3 linked regions of the Homo sapiens genome follow. The protein of the gene in region 2 purifies or fractionates together with the protein of the main gene of each other region. This does not show direct contact. Each region holds a gene or a part of one and is shown on either strand. Other genes may lie near its edges.

Evidence for each region.
Region 1: the proteins of LUZP1 (region 2) and CNN3 purify together in Homo sapiens (co-immunoprecipitation; one large-scale study listed by IntAct). This does not show direct contact.
Region 3: the proteins of LUZP1 (region 2) and ZNF808 fractionate together in Homo sapiens (co-fractionation; one large-scale study listed by BioGRID). This does not show direct contact.

Annotation. Positions count from the first base shown.
Region 1 is NC_000001.11:94,906,551-94,910,211, reverse strand, and holds part of CNN3 (calponin-3), read left to right. Parts: intron 1-3,661. UniProt on the Homo sapiens protein: Thin filament-associated protein that is implicated in the regulation and modulation of smooth muscle contraction. It is capable of binding to actin, calmodulin and tropomyosin. The interaction of calponin with actin inhibits the actomyosin Mg-ATPase activity.
Region 2 is NC_000001.11:23,083,471-23,086,295, reverse strand, and holds the end of LUZP1 (leucine zipper protein 1), read left to right. Parts: 3' UTR 1-2,266; downstream 2,267-2,825.
Region 3 is NC_000019.10:52,554,236-52,556,981, forward strand, and holds the end of ZNF808 (zinc finger protein 808), read left to right. Parts: coding exon 1-1,393; 3' UTR 1,394-2,101; downstream 2,102-2,746.

The sequences.
Region 1 (3,661 bases), about 72 Mb from region 2:
GAACACACGGAACACTTGAAAAACAGAAGCTAATGTTGAATACGAGTTTACTTAGAGAGTTTGGAGTAATGCAGGATTATCCTGGTGGCTCAAAACGGGGAGCCACAGCTGAAATTAGGGAGACTGTTGTAATCACTGGGGACAATAACCAGGAATTGTCTGCTTCCAGGTTTGAACAAGCTCTGTGATGATAATACATTGTGAGAAGGAATCCATGTGAAAAACAAGCAGTCTTCATTCTTCAGTAGATTCTGGAATGTCCTGGGTGTAATGGGGGCATCAGACAGTTCTTGTACATGAATGTCATCACTCTACCTCATGGCAGATGTGCCCCCATCTTTTTTTCAAATGGTACTTGAGCTGAATGCTCTCGGCGTACACCGAGAAGTACCATTCAACAGCGCAGGAATCGAGCTTTTGGGTCAGCTGTGGAGGTGCTTTTTGAAGCTAGGTCTCCCTTTACTCTTTCTCCCTTTCTGAGGGTTCTTAGGGGGAAGCTTCTCAAATTTCAGAGCCAGGGAGGGGCATGGCTGTTTCCCAGCAGCTGGTAGGCTTGTATCTGCTCTAGTGTCTGCCTTCACTGTTAGGACACATAGGCCCTCGGGGTTGTGTTTCTGAAGGTGGTCTTAGTCCAGAGCTCTTGGATATATGATTAATAGTGATATGTGATATGTGTGCCTGTGGGCTGGAAGAATAATTGGCTGAAGGATAGGCCCTTCCCTCTGGGAATGGAGTGTGATTTGTGGGGGGAGAGACTTGTACATTTTAGTGTTATCTCAGTGTTTCTTAACCTTGTTTTCATGATCACCTTCTCCAAGAGTTGTTTTAGACATTGTTCCTAGTTACCTCCTATCCCTTGCTAGATTTAGTACAAAGGAATAAGATTTTGTTGGGTAGAGTTGAGCTTTGGAGGGTCCCAAGTTTTTGTATTGTCTTAAGATTTTTTTCACCATTGGTAGAAACCACCACAAGAAACACTTTTCACCTCTTTGGGACACCACCACCCCTGTTGAGAATGCATGCGCTACATACTTGTATATCATTTATTTGTTTATTTTTGTTTTAAAGACAGAGTCTCACTTTGCCACCCAGGCTGTAGTGCAGTGACATGATTATCAGTCACTGCAACCTGGAACTCCTGGCTTCAAGCAATCCTCCTGCCTTGGCCTCCCAAAGTGCTAGGATTACAGGCATGAGCCACCCACCTGGCCTATTTTTTTTTTTTTTTTTTTAAAGAGACGGGCTCCCTATATTGCCCTGGCTGGTCTCGAACTCCTGGGCTCAAGGATTCCTCCTGCCTCAGCCTCCCAAAGTTGCAGGATTACAGGCCTGAGCCACCATGCCTGGCCCAGCCTAATTTTTTTAAAAAAATTATTATTTTGGAATTGGCTGGGCGTAATCCCAGCACTTTGGGAGGCTGAGGTGGGCGGATCACCTGAAGTCAGGAGTTCAAGACCAGCCTGACCAACATGGCGAAACCCCATCTCTACTAAAAATACAAAAATTAGCTGGGTGTGGTGGTGGGCACCTGTAATCCCAACTACTCAGGAGGTTGAGGCAGGAGAATCGCTTGAACCCGGGAGGTGGAGGTTGCAGTGGGCCAAGATCACGCTATGGCACTCCAGCTTGGGTGACAGAGCGAGACTCCGTCTCAAAAAAACAAACAAACAACAACAAAAAACCAATTATTATTTTAGAATTACAAAAGAAAGTGAGGGCTAAAGAAAGGTCATGAAACAAGAAAGGACTGATCTGCATTTGAACTGAAGGGTGACTCCACACTGGTGCTCTTAGCTGTCCTGAGGAGAGAGCCAAGGGAAGCTCTAAGGGCTGAAGCCGCCACCACGACCACAACAGGATGAGCCCTGGACCCAGGCACAGGAACATGAAGAGGAGCAGGTGAAGCTGTCGGAGGAGCGAGAGCAGAGCAGGCCAATCGCTGAATGTAGGGAGGAGGATCAGCTGTATCCTATGCCCTAGGAGGCTTTTTTCTTGGTCTTCATTATCTTCACATGTTGATTGTATCTGGCTAGAGGGATGTTGGAGAGTTTCGGGGAGGAGTCTCCAGCAGGTGTGCCTAGACAGTATTCTCCTCGGTCTCTGGATCATTTGTAAGTGCTCCTTGATGCAAAGAAGGCTGTCAGGCACTGCTTGGAGAATGTGTGCGTGTTTAAGAAAGGAAGGTGGGCATATAAAGAGAGGGGCTGCTGTGGATTTGAAAGAGCCAGGCAGAAAGTCTGCGAAAGCAGCTTGGGAAGGCCAAGAAAATAAATCTTGAAGAAGAATAAAGAAAAGGATGTTTATCAACAACTTGGAAGAGTAATTTTTATTTTATTTTTATTTCTTATTTTTGAGACGGAGTCTTGCTCTGTTGCCCAGGCTGCAGTGCAGTGGCACCATCTCAGCTCACTGCAAGCCCCGCCTCCCGGGTTCACACCATTCTCCTGCCTCAGCCTCCCAAGTAGCTGGGACTACAGGCGCCCGCCACCACACCCGTCTAATTTTTTGTATTTTTAGCAGAGACAGGGTTTCACCGTGTTAGCCAGGATGGTCTTGATCTCCTGACCTCACGATCTGCCCACCTTGGCCTCCCAGAATGCTGGGATTACAGGCGTGAGCCACTGCGCCCTGTCAGGAAGAGTAATTTTTAAGTAAATTAGAGTGAAATTTCCATGAAGTATTAATGAGGTAAGTTTAAGCAATTATTTTAAGCTAACTTTCTTTTGTTGAGAGAAAGAAAATGTCAGCGTTTTTCTGCCAGATGTTGAGAAATTAAAGCTTTTTAGATGAAGATAGTAAATCATTTTTATTGGCCAAAGATTACTTTTTTAAATTGCTCTCAGTTCCTTGATTTTAAAAGATAATGCTGTTTAGCTGGCCTGACTGCATAAAGCTCACTTACTAGAAAAATATTCGAAGTATTTGGATAGGAGAATCCTGTTGCTCCTTTACTTAAAGGAAACCCTTAGCCCACACCAACAGTTATTTGATGTGGCTGCATTCCTAGTCTTAATTTTTAATTGATCATATGGGGCTTTGAGTTTTGCATGCTTGTACATACGAATTTCTTCTGTGCACGTGGTCATATGGTAAGTCTCAAGGACAGCATCACCTGTCCAGAGCTCCCCCCCACAACCACTCATTGGTAGAGCCAGGATTTGAACTGAGGTCCATCTGACTCCAGTGCTTGATTTTTCTATCTCATCACTTCCTTGACAAGAACTGTCAACAGAGAAGGTGAAAACTTCTTACTGGGATCTACTAGGATATTTCAAGTTAGGTCTGTAGTCACTTCGTGGTTTGGGGCATGGCACCAAATCTGTTGGACACATTTTGAACAAAGGATGCATAAATATGCTTTTAATGTTTTTCTGCTTAAATATTAATTGATGTCATTTGGTATGAGAATTACCATCACCATCCTGTGAAATATCCCAAACTACTCTAACATAATTTTTCTCTACATTTGAAGAAACGAGAAAATACTTCTTCAGTTTTTTATTATTTGACCAAATTGTGTAGATAGCTGAGAGTAGGAACGGACCTAGTGCAGGCATCCAGTTTAGACTTCCTCTTGGATCGAGAGAAGTTAGAGGAACTAACCCAGGCCCATAGCAAAGATAGATGGAGCCAGGCATGGCGCCAAGGCAGAACTCCTCTC
Region 2 (2,825 bases):
TTAAGTGTCCTCAGCATTGCAGAAAATAACATTGTAATAGCAAGTAAAGGCTGGAGGCTGTTTCTCTGGGCTTCAAATGGCTGGCAAGGCTGGCTCTCAAATCCCAAAGTTGGGAGGCATGTTTCTGAAAAGCAACTGAGGTGTGACTGTTTGGACCCAGGCCTCATCATCAGGGGTCCTGGAGGAAGCCTCCAAGTAGAGGGGAGACCTGGTAGTTGAATAGTTGTTTAATCAAGCCAAATAGTCCCACTGCCCCCGGTCAACAAACCCACTTTTATGACAGTTTTCTTCCGCAGCTTGGCTCTTAAATTTTACTGGCAGGTGTATGGTTGTTGGAGGGTTCCTAGTGAGTTGGGGGACCTGGCAATAGAGCTGCTTGGTTGGAGGAAGTGAAGCTGGCTTAGTACCAGCAGCTGATCTCTTCCACGTGCTGCTGCTTTTTTTGCCACTCTGATACTAAACCAGAGAAAGCTGCAGGTGGATAAAGAAGCTGTGGCTGTTTTTTGCTTTTGGGTGGCAATGAGAAAGAGTCACAGTGTGGGTTAAAGGGATCTGCAGTGGGGCCAAGGATGCCACCCCACCCTCAGCTGTAGGCAAGCTTGCACATAAATAACCCCCGTCAGTGGAGTGTTCGGGATGCAGGGGGCACTATAGTGTTCTTGGACTTGTCGTCCTGGGGCAGTTTTAGTTCTTTATATTTAGTGGGTCAGTGCCAAGTGCTACCACTTCCCAATAAAGGAATGGGGACCCAGAGGCTGGGTCCCTGGCTACCTTGTTATGAGGTTTTGTTATTTCTCTGACAAGATTGCTTTGGAAAGAGCTGCTTTTAGGGATTATTTTTTGAATACCCCGAGTGGGGAGCAGGGTTCTCCTCAAAGCCTCACAACCATAGGATCATAGGAAAGGGGCCCTATTTTCCTGCTGCTTCCCAGCTCAGAACATATACTGAATGGAATGTATTTTTAAGAGAATAAAGTCTATTTTTTTGTATTTTAAAGATTGAGAGGGCTAAGAAAGTAGCCCTCAAATAAACTGTTATTGCATTATAGGCCCCTTTGTTGGGGGCAGCCTGTTGGTCCACACCTACTTGCTCAGGCAGGTGCTCTGGTCTCTCTCACCCCTGCCCCTTAGAGTCTAGGTGCAGCAGCTCCAAGCATGGGACCAAGGAGGCCAGAACCTGTCGCTGGAAACCAGGGCAAAGCAGTGGCTCAGGGCTCCTTGGGTGCATGTGTATCATTGGAGCTGCCTGTCTGCATGTATCCTCTGGCGCGAATGCTCTCTGTTGGCTCTGCAGTACAATATGTAACCAATAAAGCTCCCTCGTTTCCGTATACTCTGTGCGAGTCTGTGATGCCAGTTTTGTCAATGTCATCCCTGTGTATCATCTGTCTTCTATGCGTTGGCGCAGCTCTAGTATATTTATTTATTTCATTGTGTAATACTTAAAATTGGGTATTTTACCTAACCAATTACTGATACTGCAAGGACTGGAAACATTAACTGCCCTGATCCTGGTGTGCAGATTCTTTCCATTACTGCCACGAATTCTAAGACTAGGGGGGGAAAAGCCTTCTCCGTTTTCATCTTCCAGTCAGATCACCAATATATATAATGATGTCCCTTAACTCACAGTAAGAAAGAATAAAACCACATTTAAGGGACATTACTTGGATTTGCAGTAACAGTGTTTATCATCTATCTGTCAGTCAGTCAGGAGCCCCTGGGAAGGAACCAGCATGTAACATGTTTTTATCATCTTATATGGCAAAAGGGACTTTGCAGATAAGGATGCTGGGATGAGGCAGAACATCCTAGATGATCCAGGTGGGCCTTAAATGTAATCACAGGTAGTATCCTTTTAAGAGAGAGACAAAAGATTTGACTACAGGAGAAGGCAATGTGATGATGGAAGCAGAAACTGGAGTTATGTGCTCTGAGGATGGAGGAAGGAGCCACGAGCCTTCCCACACCTAGAAGCTGAAAAGAGCAAGGAAATGAACTGATCCTCCCTGCTCTGAGAGCCTCTGTAATGAATGCAGCCCTGTGTACCCATTTTAGACTTTAAGCTTCCAGAACTTTCGAATAGATTTCTGTTTTTTTAAGAGCCACTAAGTTTGTGGCAATCTGTTAAACCAGCTGTTACCTAAGCCCTTGATCCTATGTAGTGCGCTTCCCAAAATGTACACCACCACCTTTAGTAGAATTGGGAAGTTTTAGCACATACCCATGGAGGGAATCAGGAATAAAGGCAGACTGGTCTCCCAAAGGCTCAGACTTTGTTTCAGCTCTTTTGTGTTCTATCTTGAAAGTGCATCCAAAGTTTCCTAATAACCATGTTCTTGGCACACCACCACACTCCACCCCCACCCAAGTGAGGAAGCCTAGTCCGACTGACCAGGAAGTCCACTGCTTCTACAGGACCGGCCCCCCTACCTTATCTTCTGACCTGATCAAACCATTTTTCTCTTTTATATGAACATCTTCTTCCTTATTTAAACATGGAGAAAACATGTATTACTATTGCCATAGGATAAACTTGGCATTTCCAAAGGAGTAATGCCCCCATCTTGTATGTAACTCCAACTCAAAGGAACAAAAGAGAGGGCCAATTTTATATGAAGTTTTATTCTCAAAATATAAAAAAAAAACAAAAACCCCACACACCAAGGGACTAAGATGATGTTATTTCACAGCACTTGCTTGCCTCAGTCTTTACGAAGAACACAATTCCAAACTAATGGACAAGTTCCTCCCTGTGCTCTAGGTCATTCAAAGGAGGCAAGCTCCTTTGTCAAATCAGGAGCTCCATCAGCTGATCAGGAGCC
Region 3 (2,746 bases), on a different chromosome or scaffold from region 2:
AACCCTTGAGAGACATAAGAGAATTCATACTGGAGAGAAACCATACAAATGTAAGGTTTGTGATACAGCTTTCACGTGTAATTCACAGCTGGCACGACATAGAAGAATTCACACTGGAGAGAAAACTTACAAGTGTAATGAGTGTCGCAAGACCTTCAGCCGCAGGTCATCCCTTCTATGCCATCGTAGACTTCATAGTGGTGAAAAACCTTACAAGTGTAATCAGTGTGGCAATACCTTCCGTCACCGGGCATCCCTTGTATACCATCGTAGACTTCACACTCTAGAGAAATCTTACAAATGTACGGTTTGTAACAAGGTTTTCATGCGTAATTCAGTCCTGGCTGTACATACTAGAATTCACACTGCAAAGAAACCTTACAAGTGTAATGAATGTGGGAAAGCTTTTAATCAACAATCACATCTTTCACGTCATCGTAGACTTCATACTGGAGAGAAACCTTACAAATGTGAAGCATGTGACAAAGTTTTTGGTCAGAAATCAGCTCTTGAGTCACATAAGAGAATTCATACTGGAGAGAAACCATACAGATGTCAGGTTTGTGACACAGCTTTCACGTGGAATTCACAGCTGGCACGACATACAAGAATTCACACTGGAGAAAAAACTTACAAGTGTAATGAGTGTGGGAAGACCTTCAGTTACAAGTCATCACTTGTATGGCATCGTAGACTTCATGGTGGAGAGAAATCTTACAAATGTAAGGTTTGTGACAAGGCTTTCGTGTGTCGTTCCTATGTGGCAAAACATACTAGAATTCACAGTGGAATGAAACCTTACAAGTGTAATGAGTGCAGCAAGACCTTCAGTAACAGGTCATCCCTTGTATGCCATCGTAGAATTCATAGTGGTGAGAAACCTTACAAGTGTAGTGAGTGCAGCAAGACGTTCAGTCAGAAGGCAACCCTTCTATGCCATCGTAGACTTCATAGTGGTGAGAAACCTTACAAGTGTAACGACTGTGGCAATACCTTCCGTCACTGGTCATCCCTTGTATACCATCGTAGACTTCATACTGGAGAGAAATCTTACAAATGTACGGTTTGTGACAAGGCTTTCGTGCGTAATTCATACCTGGCAAGACATATTAGAATTCACACTGCAGAGAAACCTTACAAGTGTAATGAATGTGGAAAGGCTTTTAATGAACAATCACACCTTTCACGTCATCATAGAATTCATACTGGAGAGAAACCTTACAAATGTGAAGCATGTGACAAAGTTTTCAGTCGCAAATCACACCTTAAAAGACATAGGATAATTCATACTGGAGAGAAACCTTACAAGTGTAATGAGTGTGGCAAAGCCTTTAGTGACCGGTCAACACTTATTCACCATCAGGCAATTCATGGTATAGGGAAATTTGATTAATATAATGATTGTCACAAAGTCTTCAGTAACACTACAACAATTGCAAATCATTGGAGAATCCATGATGAAGAGAAATCTTCTGAGTGTAATAAATGTGGCATGTTTTTCAGACATTGTTCATACATTGCAGTTCATTGGCAACCTCATACTGGAGAGAAACCTTACAAATGTCATGATTGAGGCAAGGTCTTCAGTCAAGCTTCATCCTATGCAAAACAGGAGAATTCATACAGGAGAGAAACCTCACAAGTGTGATGATTGTGGCAAAGCCTTTACTTCACATTCACACCTCGTTGGACATCAGAGAATCCATACTGGACAGAAATCTTGCAAATGTCATCAGTGTGGCAAGGTCTTCAGTCCGAGGTCACTCCTTGCAGAACATGAGAAAATTCATTTTTGAGATAACTGTTCCCAATGCAGTGAGTATAGCAAACCATCAAGCATTAATTGACATTGGAGTCAATTCAGCATTGACTTGAGTTTGTGTTGACTTAACATTGAGTTCAAGCCTTAATTGACATTCAAGTGTTTATGTTAAGAGGATGGGGCCAGGTGTGGTGGCTCAGGCCTGTAATCCCAGCACGTTGGAAGACCAAGGCACATAGGTCACTTGAGGTCAGAAGTTTGAAACCACCATGGCCAACAGATGTCGGCCACTTTCGCCATCCTGTTTTTTGTTTCTTATTTTCTTATTTATTTATTTATTTATTTTGAGATGGAGTGTCACTCTTGTTGCCCAGCCTAGAGTGCAATGATGTGATCTCAGCTCACCACAACCTCCGCCTCCCGGGTTCAAGCGATTCCTCTGCCTCAGCCTCCCTAGTTGCTGGGATTACAGGCATGTGCCACCACACCCGGCTAATTTTTTGTATTTGTAGTAGAGACGGGGTTTCTCCATATTAGGCTGGTCTTGAACTCCCAACCTCAGGTGATCTGCCCACCTTGGCATCCCAAAGTCCTGGGATTACAGGCATGAGCCACCGTACCCGGTCTTGTTTCTTATTTTCTATTTTTTATTTTTTTGAGAGGCAGGAGAATGGCGGGTGAACCCAGGAGGTGGAGCTTGCAGTAAGCCCAGATAGCACCATTGCAACTCCAGCCTGGGAGACAGAGTGAGACTCCGTCTATTAAAAAAAAAAATTATAAATAAAAAAATGTATTTTAACCAGTTAGTCTGGTTTTCAGTTTCCTTTCCTTATGTCATTTGTTAAAATCTTCAGCTGGGAGCTATTTATTGCGTGTTTCTCTCAAGGCCCTCTGGACCATTCTGGAAAAATGTTGAAACATGGGCTGGAGTGGCATAGAATGCTCCTCCAAAAGCACCCATGTATTCTTTTGCTTTGTTTGTTT